Linked DNA regions of Homo sapiens: region 1 is linked to region 2. Evidence: fine-mapped expression QTL. A gene starts in region 2. The other region holds a variant in brackets. All regions are shown on one strand. Distances are between the middles of the regions. Region 1 has its middle 48 kb from the start of ANXA4. Region 2 holds the start of AAK1 (AP2 associated kinase 1).

What was found.
Region 1: its variant is fine-mapped to the expression of AAK1 in whole blood (TOPMed, PIP above 0.99).

What each region holds. Positions count from the first base shown.
Region 1 is chr2:69,689,648-69,697,982 of GRCh38, forward strand. It overlaps a transcript of ANXA4 not described here. Among named protein-coding and RNA genes, the nearest start is that of ANXA4, 48 kb to the right of the region's middle. The variant CA/C (reference allele first, on the strand shown) is at 4,668.
Region 2 is chr2:69,639,719-69,648,053 of GRCh38, forward strand. AAK1 (AP2 associated kinase 1) reads right to left here and starts at 4,021. Exons shown (of 22, transcript NM_014911.5): 1 at 3,857-4,021; 2 at 3,160-3,556. The coding sequence starts at 3,322. It also overlaps a transcript of ANXA4 not described here. RefSeq lists a silencer at 3,770-4,099 and enhancers at 4,180-4,449, 5,205-5,807.

The DNA.
Region 1 (8,335 bases), 50 kb after region 2:
AATTAAAGTCACTTGAAGTAGTTCCTTCCTGTGTGGTTATTCCGCCAACTCAGAGTGTACATTTCAGTTCATTTGTTTCATTTTGGTTTTGTTTCATAGGGATTGCTTTTCAATTAAAAATATTTTATAATTATGTAAAATGATTACAAATTTCTAAAGTCAAATCTACAACAGCAGGCATATTCAGAGGAGTGTGACTTCTATCCCAGTCCCTCTACCCTATCTACTTCCCAACAAAGTCTTTTTTAAGAAATAAAGTTTTATGGCATATTCTCTCATTAAAAAAATAAGGAAACATTTTCATATATCAAATTCTCTCTTTTTAGATAAACAGTAGCATACTATAGACAATTTTTTCTACCTTGTTTTGTTTTCACTAGCCATAAAGTCTAAGGATCACTCCATATATTCCTCGTTCTTTTTTACAGCTGTGTAGTACTCTGCCATGTGAACTGTGCATAGTATTATTTGGATGTTAAACACATTTAATCAAAATTAAAATTTAAGGAAATTTTAGCATGGTCAGCTGAAATAGAATTCAGGTGTCTCTCAAAATTTGTCCTCCCACCTATTTATTTGTTTTATTTTTGTTTATTTATTTATTTATTTGAGACAGAGTCTCACTCTGTTGCCCAGGCTGGAGTGCAGTTGTGCTATCTCGACTCACTGCAGCCTCCACCTCCTGGGATCAAGTGATTCTCCTGCCTCAGCCTCCCAAGTAGCTGGGATTACAGGCACGCACCACCATCCCTGGCTAATTTTTGTATTTTTAGTAGAGACGGTGTTTCACCATGTTGACCAGACTGGTCTTGAACTCCTGACCTCAAGTGATCCACCCACCTCAGCCTCCCAAAGTGCTGGGATTACAGGCATGAGCCACTGCGCCCGGCCCAGTCTTTTCATCTACTTAGTGGCTCCACCCTGTTTTTGCAGTTCCTACACACTTACCCCTGGGATACCCTCTCCAGCCTGAGCAAAGGTTCTACATTTTTCAAATGATTTTCAGACATCTAAGATTAGCCCTTTATTGGTCCAACCCCTTGAAACCTTATTCCTTTTTAGGTGACAATGCATGCTGAGGAGTTCATTTAAAGGTAATTTCTGCAAAACCTTTACCCATCACATGCCATCTCTCCTGAGTAACAAGAGGCCTTGATCTCAAACTCCACATATGCCAGGGCATCACCGGTTGCTCTATTAAGCACCATGTTTCAGTGCCTTAGTACTGTTTGTAAAACAAAGCAACTAATAATCAGAATTTATCCTGGGATCTTATTGGGAAGAAACATCCTGAAATAACCAAGAAATAACAATAATGGTAAATCATATGTATAAATGAATTCTAGAGATGAAGGCTGTGGCAACAGTCTTTCTTTCCTTTTAATATTCCTTATGTGGGTAGCAGAAATATCAAGTTTGCAAATACTCTGCCTGGGAGAACCGCCACTTGTACCTTTCTCTTTCTGGTACAGTCTTTTTTTTTTTTTCTTTTTTTAAACGGAGCCTCTCTTTGTCATCCAGGCTGGAGTGCAGTGGTGCTATCTCGGCTCACTGCAACCTCTGCCTCCCAGGTTCAAGTGATTCTCCTGCCTCAGCCTCTCAAGTAACTGAGATTACAGGCGCCCACTTCCATGCCCAGCTAATTTTTGTATTTTTAGTAGAGACGGGGTTTCACCATGTTGGCCTCGAACTCCTGACCTCAAGTAATCCACCCGCCTTGACCTCCCAAAGTGCTGGGATTACAGGGATGAGCCACTGCTCCTAGCCCCTGGTACAGTCTTTACACTGAAAAACGGATGCACCTACCACAGTATAAAGATGGGAGTTTACTTTGGAGACAGAAGACAGGAATGAACTGCATCAAAATGATAGGCTCAGAGTTAAAAATATGAGAACCGTCAGTGATTTCACACACACACACACATGCACACACACACACACACACACACACAGACGCATGCACATATGCATGCCTATAGCTTATTTCTTTAGAAACTAGCCACAGAACCCATTGAAACCCAGAGAGCTGTGGAACACAATTAGAAAAGGCCTGGGACAGGAGGGCTGGAGTGAGCCTTCTGAGCAGCCCAGACCTCACATTAGCAGGACAGAAGTTAGCAGCGTAGAAGCAGCTGGCAGGACTAGAGCTGCCTAGCCATTATAGCTGGGTTTCCTGGCATCTGTCTTGAAGGGAAGGGGGATTGGTTACTATTCAGTAACTTCAGGTTTTTTGTTTTTTGTGTGTTTGTTTGTTTTGAGACTGAGTCTCACTCTGTCACCCAGGCTGGAGTGCAGTGGCGTGATCTTGGCTCACTACAACCTCCGCCTCCCGGGTTCAAACGATTCTCCCGCCTCAGCCTCCCAAGTAGCTGGGATTACAGGCACTTGCCATCATACCTGGCTAATTTTTGTATTTTTGTAGAGACAGGGTTTCACCATGTTGTCCAGGCTGGTCTTGAACTCCTGACCTCAGGTGATCCACCCACCTCGGCCTCCCAAAGTGCTGGGATTACAGGCGTGAGCCACCGCGCCCAGACAACTCTTCATTTTTTTAAAGAAAATTTCAGAAGATTGCCTCAGGTGAAACCACAGTAAGGAGATCTAACATATGGCATTATAAAATATGAATTTGGGCATGATGATATGCATTATGCAATTTACCATGACATTTATAAAGTCAAGGGATTTAGGCCTAGAAGTGTCCATGAAAGATTCAATGCTTTAGGTCTTCATTTATTTGTTTGTGCTGTGCACTTGGTTTGGAATTCCCTTTCCCTGTATCATTTCATCCTAATGAACGCCTACTTATTTTTTAAGACTCAATGCTATTACCTCCTCTATAGTTCCATAACAGTATATATATTTCCTGTAACAATATTATGTTGTATTATAATTGTTTGCATATTGCCTGTTTTCTACTAGGCTGTCAGTTCTTTTGGGAGAGGAGCCCAGTCTTCATACCTCAGTGACTAACTTAAAAGACACTTGATGTTTATTAAGTGATGTCAGAGACCAACTAATCCAGTTCCTCTAAGTAGATGAAACTGAGGCCCAAAGGATTTCCATAAATTCAGTAATTCCACAAGTATATACTGAGTATTTACAATGTGCCTAGCGCTAGGTAAGGCTAAATGTCTTTAGTGTATTTTAAATATCATTTGGAGTATGCTTAATTTCCATTTGTCCAGAGATCAAAAGATAAATGCCAGCATCTCATGAATCCTCAAAGCAATATTGAATTATGTTCAGAATTGGTTTATATCAATTTATTTTATTGTACTCTAAGTGTGTATCACCCAAGAATGCAATCTGCATACTGCTAATGTGTGTGTGTGAGGTGGGGGAGGGATGGTCAGAGTGTTCAATGCCCAATATAATGCCCAATTTAGGAAACACTGGGTTATATTAGGTTAAATAGATTCTTCCCTGAACTTTCAACATGCTTGATAGTGACTAGTTAAATCTCCAAGAAGAGCATCTAATATGCACTGTTTCCCAAATTTATTTGCCTAGTGAACCTCCCCTTTTTTGTTGCTCCTATTAATAGCTGCCTGCAATGCAGTTCGGAAGAACATAGAGTTGGTCGGTGCAGTTCTTTGAAGAGTCCTCATCTGTGTTTAGTGAGGACTTCAAAGGGAAACTGTAAGCTCCCTGGGGAGGAAAGTGGATGGAAGGGGAGAAGGGAAGGCCGGAGAAGGAGCAGCTAACCAGGAAGACACGGGAGGTAGCAGGTCACTGTCTAGGGTCTAAGAGAGGGACAGGGGCCATAAGCAGACAACTGAGGAGCATGTTTCCATGCTAAGCTCAGTGAGACATTTGGGGCTCAAGCAGATGGGCTTTGGGGTCAAGAGATAAGGTGTTTCACAAGGAGAGCCAGGAGCACTTCTGCAGGAACATGCAGCATGTCTTCAGGCCTCTGGGGATTCCAGAGGACATGGCACCCTGCCTGCAGGTCCCCAAGGACTGCCACATGTCAGGGCCACAGTGTCTGTGGGGACAGGAGAGGAAGGAAATGAAGCAGGCACAAAGTAGGTTACTGAGTGGTTTCATCAACATCTGTGACACCCACTCCCAGGGGGTTCCTGGACATATTTGGGGTTAGGTTTAACAAGGGGCAGTAGCTATGGGGAACAATATTTGCAGGGCCCAATGCAAAATGACAACACAGGCCCCTTGTTTAGAGTTAAGAATTTCATGATTGTGACAGCTGAGCATTAAACCAAGCACCAGGCCCTTCTGAATGCAGACCTCTGGACAACTGTACAGGTTGCACACCCATGAAGCTGCCAGAGAGTTCTCAGTGGTCCTAAAGCCCACTTGAATCTCCTGGCTACTGTGGCCTGGAGAAACCAGGTTACGCATGGTTTATATAAAAAGTTGGTCTCCCTATTCCAACGTATCTGATTATCATGGAAACACTGTTTACCAGTTGCTATGGTCTGAATGTTTGTGTCTCCCCTCAACCCCTGCAACATTCATATTTAATCCCCAATGCAGTAGTATTAAGAAGTGGTGCCTTAGGAAGTGATGAGGTCCTAAAGTGAATGGGGTGAATGGGATTACTGCCCTGTGAGAGAGAACCAAGGGCGCTTGTTTGCCCCTTCCACAATGTGAGAACGCAGCAGGAAGATATCCTGTGAAGCAGAAAGTAAGCCCTCACCAGATAC[CA/C]CATCCGTTGGTGCCTTGACTTTGATCCAGAACAGTAAACAATACATTTCTTTTTTTTTTTTAATTATACTTTAAGTTTTAGGGTACATGTGCACATCGTGCAGGTTTGTTACATATGTATACCTGTGCCATGTTGGTGTGCTGAACCCATTAACTCGTCATTTAGCATTAGGTATATCTCCTAATGCTATCCCTCCCCCCTCCCCCCTCCCCCCACCCCACAACAGTCCCCGGTGTGTGATGTTCCCCTTCCTGTGTCCATGTGTTCTCATTGTTCAATTCCCACCTATGAGTGAGAACATGTGGTGTTTGGTTTTTTGTCCTTGCGATAGTTTGCTGAGAATGATGGTTTCCAGCATCATAACAATACATTTCTATGGTTTATAAAATACCCAGTCTATGGCAGCTCAGATGGACTAAGACACCAGTCATTCTGGGTAAACTTTGTTGTAAGATAAATTTATTTATTTATTGTTAAATTTTAAATATTTTCAGAGAGGGGGTCTTGCTATGTTGCCCAGGCTGGTCTCAAACTGCTGGGTTCAAGTGATCCACCTGCCTTGGCCTCCCAAAGTGCTGGGATTACAGGCGTAAGCCACCATGCCCAGGCTGTTATAAGATAAATTTAACCAGCCTAGGCAACATGGCGAAACCTCGTCTCTACAAAAAGTACAAAAATTAGCCGGCATGGTGGTGCATGCCTGCAGCCCCAGCTACTCAGGAGGCTGAGAGGTGGGAGTATCACTTGAGCCCAGGAGGTCGAGGTTGCAGAAAGCCATGATTGCGCCACTGCACTCCAGCTTGGGTGACAGAGCAAGACTCTGTCTCAAAAAAGAAAAAAAAAAAGTACACATTAAATTCCAGGAACATATTTAATGCAGAAATCCAGGCACATTCAAGCTATTTCCATATATAGTACTCACACCATAAACAGCATCCATTCTCCTCACGCTGAGAATCAAGGCAGATTTGCAGCTGCATTGCAGACGAGTATAACCTTTGACTTTGTCCTGGGGTTCATACCAGTATTCATTTGGTGCTGAGGCAGCACTCAGCACCCGTGCTGATTTCCCTCAAAAATGAAAAACAAACTCAGGTGGAAAATCTGGGCATGCAATGTCATTTGCTATTTTTGGAGATGAGGGAGAAAAAAGAAGTTGTGGAAAGTGTTGTAATAAGCAGCATAGAACAGCAGCCCATGAGTGTGAAATAAAACAACACCCGCATGCTCTTCTTGACAGTGATTGAATGGAAGCAACGAAGTGGAGGAGAAACCACGCTGGGGAGAGCTGGCATCCCCTTGGGAGAAGCCTTTCCAACAGTGGACTGAAAGCATGAGTTACCTTACCCTGTAAGATTAATCTCCAACCAAACAGCAATCTTACCTCTGAGATACAGGCATACCTCAGAGTTTATGTGGGTTTCAATCCCAACCACTGCAATAAAGCAAATATTTGGAATAAGTGAGTCACACAGATTTTTTGGTTCCCAGTGCATAGAAAGGTTATGTTTATACTATACTGCAGTCTATGAAGTGTGCAATAGCATTACGTCTTAAAAAAGTATATACCTTAATTTAAAAATACTTTTTTGCTAAAAAAAAATGTTAACAGTCATCTGAGCCTTTAGTGAGTTGAAATCTTTTTGCTAGTGGAGGATCTCATCTCAACACTGGTGACTGCTGACTGATCAGGGTGGTGGTTGCTGAAGGTTGGGTGGCTGTGGCAATTTCTTAAAATAATACAATGAAATTTGCCGCATTTATTGACTCTTCCTCTCACAAAAGATTTCTCTGTATTGTGAGATGCTGTTTGATAGCATTTTGCCCACAGGAGAACTCCTTTCAAAATTGGATTCCATCCTCTCAAACCCTTAGTTGATGCTTTATCAACTAAGTTTATGGAACATTCTCAATCGTTTCTTGTCATTTCAACACTGCTCACAGCACCTTCACCAGAAGCAGCTTCCATCTCAAGAAATCACTTTCTTTGCTCATCCACAGAAAGCAATTTCTCATCTGTTCAAGTTTAATCATGAGATTGCAGCAATTCAGTCACATCTCCAGGTACCACTTCTAATTCCAGTTCTCTTGCTATTTTCACCACATCTGCAGTGACTTGCTCCATTGAAGTCTCAGACCCCACAGTCATCCACGAGAGTTAAAATCAGCTTCCTCCAAACTCTGTTGATGTTGATAGTTTGCCCTTCTCTCATGAATCATGAGTATTTATAATAACATCTAAAATGGTGAATCCTTTCCAGAAGGTTTTCAATTTACTTTGCCCAGATCCATCAGAGGAATCACTATCTATGGCAGCTACAGCCTTACAAATGTATTTCTTAAATAACAAGACTTGAAAGTCAAAAATCACTCCTTGATCCATGGGCTACAGAATGGATGTTGTGTTAGCAGGCATGAAAACAACATTCAGCTCCTTGTACATCTCCATCAGAGTTCTTGGGTGACTAGGTGCATTGTCAAGAAGCAGTAATATATTAAAAAGGAATCTTTTTTATTTTTTGAGTAGTAAGTCTCAACAGCAGGCTTAAATTATTCAGTAAACCATGCTATAAACAGATGTGCTGTCATCCAGGCTTTGTTGCTCCATTTATACAGCACTGGCAGAGTAGATTTAGCATAATACTTAAGGGTCCTAGGATTTCCAGAATGGTAAATGAGCACCATGTTCAACTTAAAGTCACCAGCTGCATTAGTCCCTAACAAGAGAGTCGCCTGTCCTTTGAAGCTAGGCATTGACTTCTCTCTAGCTACGAAAGTCCTAGATGGCATCTTCTTCTAGTAGAAGGCTGTTTCATCTCCATCGAAAATCTATTGTTCAGTGTAGCCACCTTCATCTATGATCTTAGCTAGATCTTCTGGATAACTTGCTGCAGCTTCTCCATCAGCACTTGCCTCTTCACCTTGCACTTTTATGTTATAGAGATGGCTTCTTGCCTTAAATCTCATGAAGCAACCTCTGCTAGCCTCAGACTTTTGTTCTGCAGCTTCCTTACGTCTCCCAGCCTTCGCAGGATTGAAAAGAGTTTAGTGCCTTGTTCTAGGCTAGGCTTTGGATGAAGGGAATGTTGTTGCTGGTTTGATCTTCTATCCAGCTCACTGAAACTTTCTCCGTATCAATGCTGTTTCGCTTTCTTATCATACTTGTGTTCACTGGAGTAGCACTTTTAATTTCCTTCAAGAATTTTTCCTTTGCATTCACAACTTGGCTATCTGTTTGGCACAAGAAGCCTAGCTTTTGGCCTGTCTCAGCTTTTGACACACCTTGCTTACTAAGCTTAATCATTTCTAGCTTCGGATTCAAAAATGAGAGATGCACATGATTCTTCCTTTCACTTGAACACTGAGAGGCCATCGTAGGGTTGTTAATTGGCCTAATGTCAATATTGTTGTGTCTGAGCAGTGGAGCAGTCAGTATATAACATTTATTAATTAAGCTTGCTATTCTGTATGGGCACAGTTTATGGTGCCCTAAACATTAACAATGGTAACATCAAAGATACCTGGGGCCAGGTGTGGTGGCTCAGGGACTGGGCAAAGTGGTTCATTCCTATAACCTGAGCACTTTGAAAGGCTGAGATGGGAGGATCTCTTAAGCCCAGGAGTTTGAGGCTAGCCTGGGCAACACAGTGAGACCCCATCTCAAAA
Region 2 (8,335 bases):
GCCTCTCACACCACTCCTCCCTAAACTGCCTAGCCACCGCTCTGGGCACACAGGGTACAACTCCTGTGGTCCTTAAACAACTCTGGCTAGAACTGTAGATAAGTCAGCACTCGGGGACTCACAGAGAAGAGAGTCCAGGGAAGGAGCATGGCTACCCAAAACGTCTGTTAAGCCTTTAAGGAGCTGGTGAGGACTCTGCAAAGAACATCTGGCTCTGTCCCCTAACAATGGGGGAAAGGAATTGCTTCAGATTGCTGCAGCTCAACTAGCTTTCACATTGCTCCCACTCCCCTTTAACACACACACACACACACACACACACACACACACACACACTCTCTCTCTCTCTCTCTCTCTCTCTCCCCCCCCACATATATACATATGATGTATAACGTTGCTGGTAAGTAATGGCTACCATTTATTGAACACCTGAAAATGTTAATTATATATATTGCCTCATTTAATCTTCATGACCAGCCCATTAAGCAGTGGTTCTCAAACTTGACCTTGCGTCAGAATCTCTCCAGGAACTTATTAAGCCCCACACCCACAGCCTACAGAGTGAGGCCTGAGAATCTCCATTTCCAACAAGCTCGCAGGTGATAAGTATGCCCCACTTTGAGAACCACTGCCACAGGGAAACAGAGATTCAAGAGTGGTTTGGAATGTCTTGCCTACAGTTCCACAGCTAGTAAAGAACAGATCCAGAATTTGAACCTAGATCTGTCTGACTCTACAGACAGTGCTGGTAACCATGCTACTGTATGTGTGAATGTATGCCTCATCTTCCCAAATTCATTGGCAGATCCTTAAAGGCAGATGTCAATCACACTATAGACCTCCCTCATCCATCTCAGAACTTCATAGGGTCTTTGGACTTGGTAGGTGCTACATAAATACTTTGTATACTGGCTCCTACATATCTACATACTTCTAAGAGCCACAAATTCAAACTCAACTTAAGCCAAAGAACACAAAAAGGGCGCATAGCCAGACCCAGTTTTACGTGACATTCTCTCTCGCTACTCTGTCTTTGCCCATGGTGCCACCACACTAACTCCTACTCACTCTTCAGTCACTTCCTTCAGAAATCCTGGGCTCCCTAAAACTGGGGGCCACTGCACCCTAAGTTTATCTCTATGATGGCATTTACCAATCCACTATAACTGGCTATTTTCCATCTCTTAAAGCAGTTGGTAAAAGCTAGCATCTAGTTTAACAGTATACCCCCAGAGCCTAGCACAGCACCTGGCACTTCACAGGCAACTCCATAAACTGTTGAATGAATAAATGCAGAGCTACAAGTCCTAAATTCTGTGTAAAAATATCACAATACGTGATGCGCAGTTCTCAAAGATGAATCCCAGAGAAGAGGAAGGCAGCCTAGGTAACAAAGACCAATTTTGCCTTTTCTTTTCCCTATCACTTCTCTCACACTTGGAGAACATGCACCGCTTAGGGCAGCATCATCCGTGATGAGACAACATCCTAGCTGAACAAAACGCTCGTGGGCTATAAGGTCAGCAGAGGCCATTCAGAGGGGAGGAAAGTGTTCTGTGGCCCTTCGTTTCTCCTGATTTCTCTCTGACACACTCTCCTTTTCACTGTTTCTCCACCCCACTGCAGTTAAGGGCTTTGGCACAGGGATGAAAGAGACAGATCAGACTCAAGGGTGCGGATCTGGCAGCGGGCACAGAAGCATCTCCTAGCCTGCACCAAAGTCCACGGGAAAGATCCAAGGGGACAGTGACTCTGGCCCCAGATAAAGCGCAGCTAGAACAGTACTGAGATTGGAAGAGCAATAATTTCACATGGACATTAACTGTCAGAGATCTTTTTTAAAAATCATGTTTTTAAAGTACAGACTTCAACTCTATTCCCAGAAAACTGGGCCCTGCTGAATCCAGTGCTTACACAAGCTGAGAGCCAAACACAGCTTCTTCCTCTTCCAAACCCACCCACCAGCCCGCAACATCCACCATGGTAAGCATTTCCCAGGCCCAGGTCAGGACCCTTGCTTCAACTTTAGCTTGCAAAAGGCCCCTTTTTAAAGAGGCCTCTTAGCTTTCTCTCTTCCCTTGCTAATAAAACTGTTCCCTACCATCACCATGTTGCAGTAAGAGAGACCTCTCCCTTCTTCCAACCCCTCTCGGTCTATAACACAACCTACAGCAGGTTGGCCCCATCCAATCAGTCTGAATTGCTTCATGCCAAGGAAATTGCTGCTTTTATTAAAAATAAAAGCACACTAGGCAGGCGAAGGGCTGTGAAAAGTATGAGTCTGGCATAATTATGAAGGTCGAGGTTAAGGTTACCAAAAGAGACATGCAAAGATTTCCCGAAAGCCTGGGGGAATCAAGATGTATATCTACGTGAGTATAGACACACAGATGAAACACAGAGGGAATTTATGCAGCAGATCTAAATAACATCCTCTCTGATAGCGAAAAAACAAAATCAGAGCCACTCTCAAGTAATTTTTCTTTTGATTAAAAAAACAAAAAACAAAACCTAAAGCGAGAAGGAAGAGGGGCCTACTAGACTGAGTTCAAAATAACCACATTTGTTTTATGTAATTTCTGTTATCTTTGCTATAACCTGGGGACCTGATTACAGTTGGGTCAGGAAACAAATCTACTAGTGAAATCCACCAAGAGCCTTGGCCCTTGGAAAAACACGTTCACGTTCTCCGAAAATCCTCTCTTCCTTCCAATGCCTGCTCATGGAAGTGGGAAAGTTGGGTAGGAGAAGGAGAAACCCCTCTCTTCTTAAAAGTCCCCCCACCCTTCAGCCTTCACATCAAGATTTTAAGTTTTAGGAGGATGACAAGCCCATCACCCTGCCTTTGGCATAAAGCTTTACACTTTCACACATACGTTTTCTTGTGTGATCCTCAAAATTTGGCTTCTCAATATTAAAAAAATAAAAATAAAAGGCCACTAACGTAAACAATTTCGGCAACCTCCCCACACCCCCATAAGCCCAGTCACTTTCAAATCTCAATTTTAAATCTCTCAAGGACAATGACTCACAGGGCAAGTGAAGGGGGAAGGGAGGGTCAACTGGTCAAAGCCCATTCATACATGCAACAACTAGAAACCACAGTATTGCCGCATCAGCACAAGATTTTAATTTACGGCGCATTGAGCCCCACCGTACCTTCCGCCAACACCTCGTCCACTGTGACCTGCTGTCGCCCGATGCCGAAGACTCTTCCGATGTAGCCACTGCCCAGGCCCGAGGTGCTGCCCCCTCCTCCGCTGGAGCCGGAGCCCAGGCCAGAGCCGCCCTGCTCTCGCCGGGAGTCGAAAAACTTCTTCATCTTGCGAATAGGGAGCAGCAAAGCAAAATACCGATGGTTTCTAGATTTTTTTTTTTTTTTTTTTTTTTTAAGAAAAGAGATCCAAGGATTTCTTCTCAGATTTCACCTCGGAGAGGAGCCACCCGAATCCGGCCGTGGGGGTGGGGGCTGAGGGAGGATGCCTATAGGAATATGCGTGTCAATCGCGCAGCGGGTCCCCTCCTCCTCCAGAAAGCGATTCGTGTAAGTTTAAACCTGTGATGACAGAGGAAGAAAGAGAGGATGAATCAGTAACACGCTTAAAAATTCAACCGCTGAGTCCTAGGGGGAGCAAAAGCCATCATCCTGGGGAAACGCTTCATGTATTTTCCCGGCGAGAAAAACCGTGGGGCTGAAAACGCGACCCCGGCCCCAGAACCCGGGACCCCCGAGCCGGGAGCTCGGAGAAAGGAGGGATCCGAGCTGCTCCGGCAGCGCCGACCCTCCCGGGCACTGCCTCCCGCTCCTCCCGGGTCTCCCCGCCGCCCCTCGAGGCGGCATCCTGGCAGCACCCACTTGAGACGGCTCGGCGGCCGGCGCCCTGCTACCAGCCCCGCGACATTGTCACGGCCGCCGGGCCGGCCTGCGACGCAGAGAAGAGGCGGCGCTGCAGCGAGAGCCGGGGCCGCGCTCGGCTCCCGCCCGCCCGCCAGCTGATCCCGGGAGCGCCGGGCGGAGACTGACCCGCCGCCCCTCCCCCGCGCGCGCTCCCGCCCGGCTCCATCCACCCAACCAGGAAGTGAACCGCCGCCGGAAGTGCCCCTCGGGGCGGCGCGGCGAGGGACCGGGGCCTCTCCTGCAACCGCCGTTCTGTCGCCACGGATGGGAAGGAGTCGACCGCGAGAAGAGGACTGGGGGAAGAGGGTCTCAGTGCAGACAGAGTTCTGGAAAAGACTGTTGATATCACCCGAGCCGCAGGGCAAGCTGGGAAAGGTAGCTCGGCACAGTCCGGCTGCTGGACTACAAATCCCAGCATACTCCTGGAGGAGAGGGCGAGGCGGCAGCCGTGTGGCCTCCACGGCCTCGAAGGAGATTTGTGGGGTGGCGCGTATGTGGGGACTCGGCAATTTAAACACATCCCGTGAAGAAACTGCCAACAACTAAGTTCCCCCCCCCCCCCCCCCGCTGTATGTTCCACCCTTCTGGAGCCATCTTATTTGCGGCCTGGCCTCCTGGCACAAGGGATTCTGGAGGTTGTGGTTTCCGAACGGATCGAGACTGACACCTGAAGGACGCGGCTTAACCGCTTAGCCCCTAGCGGGTCCTGTGGGTTTCCCGACGTCTCCTGGGCTGAAATGGAAGCGAGAAGTGATCGGGAACATTGTGCTGGCAGTTGGATCCGGCTGCACCGAGCGCCAGCCTTGAAATAAGTAAAACCGATGCCCTTCCGCCCCTAACCTCAAAAGCTGCTTTTGCGTCTCGATGTTATTGAGAGCCGGCTCTGCGGTCAGCTCTGAGCTAGGCGCTGTGAGAACGCTCAGTAAGACAGTGTCTCGTCTGGAAATGTACAGGCGAGATTCAAACCGAGAAACTGCCAAAGGTTGTGTGCAGGGCAGATCCTAGGATACCGGAGACCCAGCCCGTTGGCTTGACCTCAAAACTCGGGGGCTTTTCGGCCCATGCTGTCCCTTAATTCCTCCTCCTTTGCTGACGCTGTGGGTGCGCATCAAAGCCTAAACTTCACTAGCTCCCTTGCACACAAGAACACTAACCCTAACCTGACCAGTTATTTATTTTTCACTTCAAGATTCTTCCATTGATACTTACGTTTCCCTGATACCGTCCAAGTGCTGAGGGCGGGGATGGACTGTGTGATTTGCATCTGCCAAATGCAGAAAATTTGGAAGGTCAGTTGGTACACTTTTCCGACCTAGATTTCCTGATGGATGATGCTGAAGAGTGGCAAGTTGCTGCCAAAAACAAACAAAAAAACCTACCATGATTTATTAATATTATTTTTCTAACCCCTGAATATGGGTTATTGTTCATCTCTGCCCGCTTTCCCCACTCCCTAGTGCTTGTCTCAGAATTTTTTTTTCAGCGGGTATTTGAGTAGAGAAGGGTGTCCCAGGGAAAAAAATGGTTCTTGCTTTCTCTAATCTGAATATTGAGCTGAGCTGTGACTGGGTTAACAGTAGCGTTTGTTGTTGCTGCTGCTGCAGCTTGTTTCAAGTAGTGCCATTGTAATTAAACTCCGTGAAGAGATAGCATCTTTTCTTCCGGAGAGAGTCAGTGTTGTCACCTCAGTTCACGAATTCATGTAGCCACCTCCAGGGTGAAATGCAGCCCCTATTCCCTCAAACTAAGCCCACGAAGGCATGTTCTCTGCACTTTCCTTAAAAGGCCAGATTTTTGTCTGAGGAAGTTTGAAGCAGATCTTAAAATAGATGAGAAAGCTCATTTGGAATTAGACTCATTGACCCCCATTTCTCTCAGCACTTATTTGTCTTGACTGACTTTTTTAAACAAGCTGTGCTAGGTCCTAAAATCAATCTGATGCTATCTCAGTTTTTACCTTTCTAGACTTCTCTGGTACCAGACTAGTCCAGGCTTACACAAATCTCAAGTCTTACTTCAGTGATACAAAAACTCCCAATATGCTTAAGGTAGCTAACATGCATTTATTTAACACCCACGTGAATGCTCTGATCAGAAGCTGAGGGAAGAGGTTTAAAAAACAAAAAACATGACTAGATTCCTTGCCCTCCATTCCCTCACAGACTAATAGCAATTATAATGACAAATCCACAGTTTTTCATGCTTTACATATATTAAGTATATAATGCTCACAACCACCCTATGAAGTAAAGTACCATTATTATACTCATTTTATAGGTGGGTAAGTAAAGCAAAGAGATTAGTGACTTGCCCAAAGTCACACAGTAAATAGCAAAGCCAGGATTCAAACCCAAACATTTTAGTTTCAAAGCCCAGTTCTTACCTGGCTATACTAAACTGTCTACTTAGAGAGAGCAAACATTAACTGATTAAAAGACTCGTGAATAGTTAGAAACCCACGCACAAGCAGCATAGGACCAGGAGACAGGAAACCTCTTGCCACTTCATAGCTGGGATCCTAGACCACTTGTGTCACTGGGCTTATTATCTCAGCTATAAAACCAGAGCTCTTACAACTCTTAGTAATTTTTTAGTTCCTGAGTACAAAATAATGAACAGATCAGCCACTATAATCTCAAAACTATCACACTTTCTGTATAATTTGTCCCATGCTGCTTTGCATTCCTGTTCAACTTTTAATGTATATTGCTGTCTCAACCAAACACCTCAAAGCCAGAGAACCATCTTCTACTTATCTCCTTGGGCATCCAGTATAATAGTTTACATAGAGTGTGTTCTTAGCAGTACTTAAAGTAAATAATTTACTTTAAATGTGACACAAAACAGAGCTATCTGATTAAGGTGGAAAGATTGATTTGAAGTATCCTAGATGAATTTTGAACTAGGTGTGGAAGATGCTATGGGTAAATAGTCAAAGGGAGTGGGAAAAGAAAGTGCCATTTACTATTGTTACAATAGTGATCATATGACCGATGGAACAGACTCTTTGAGGCAATAAGATGCCAAATTATAAACAAGACCTAAGGCTGTGTCAGGCAAGGGTTAAGTCACACATCCCTACACTTGAAGAGTAAACCATCTTCTAACTGCCACAAGGTTTTTCTTTTTCTCTGGTAGCTAAATAGACACTGGCCTGGAGATAAGCAATATTGAATCAATTGTAGCTCACTGACCACTAGATGCTGACTAACTGTATCCCCCCAACCCCTGTTCCACAAACCATAACTATTTCTTTGATTGGACAAGAGACTGATTTCAGTAACATCCTAGTAAGAGACTACCAACCACAGACTGGTTCTGGCTGGTTTTCAGAGGCTGTGCACTGAGTGTCTTCATGTCCTTTGCTTCACCTAATTGTAATGCATTTAAATGTTAAATCTCCACCCCAAAGAGAACATAGGACATATGTAACATGCATGTTTGCTCACTATGCATGCATGTGCTGCCCCCCGCTTTGTGAATAATCAAAGCTCCTGTAACTTAAGTGTGTATTCTTAGCCAACTCATTTGGCATAAATTTGTGTTCCACTTTTTCCTCCCTCTAAATACCTGCTTTCAGTCTCTGCCAGAGTCTACACTTCCCAGCCTGTCAGGATCACCAGCCTGCAGGCTGCAACCCTTTATAAAAAGTAAAGCTCCCCTCTCCAAATTTATAAACCTTGGGATTCTTCAGTTAACACTATGTATCTTCCATATGCCAGTTATGGAATTTAAAAAATATATATATATTGTTTTATTGTTTTATTTTTATTTTATTTATTTATTTATTTATTTATTTATTTATTTTTTGAGACAGAGTCTCACTCTGTAGCTCAAGTTGTAGTGCAGTGGCGTGATCTCGTCTCACTGCAACCTCTGCCTCCCAGGCTCCAGCGATTCTTGTGCCTCAGCCTCCCGAGTAGCGGGGACTACAGGTGTGTGCCACCATGCCTGGCTAATTTTTTGTATTTTAGTAGAGACAGGGTTTCACCATGTTGCCCAGGGTGGTCTTGAACTCCTGAGCTCAGGCCATCCACCCACCTTGGCCTCCCAAAATGCTGGGATTACAGGCATGAGCCACCACGCCCAGCCACTTTTTAAAAAAAATAATTATATAAAAAATAGAGATGGGGTCTTGCTTTGTTGCCCAGGCTGACCTCAAACTCCTGGACTCAGGTGATCCTCCCACCTCAGCCTCCCAAAGTGCTGAGATTACAGATGTGAGCCACCGTGCCTGACTGATATTATTTTATTTAATCTTCATGGTTGCCTACAAAGTAGACAGTATTATCTATTTTATCAAAGAAAATACTGTTACACTATTATTCCCAATTTTATAGATGAACAATGAAGATTTTGTTAGTAGCAGATGAACATGTATGGTTTGTTAAGTTTGAAGGAAATGATTTGACCTGTGGTACACCTAAATCATGTTAC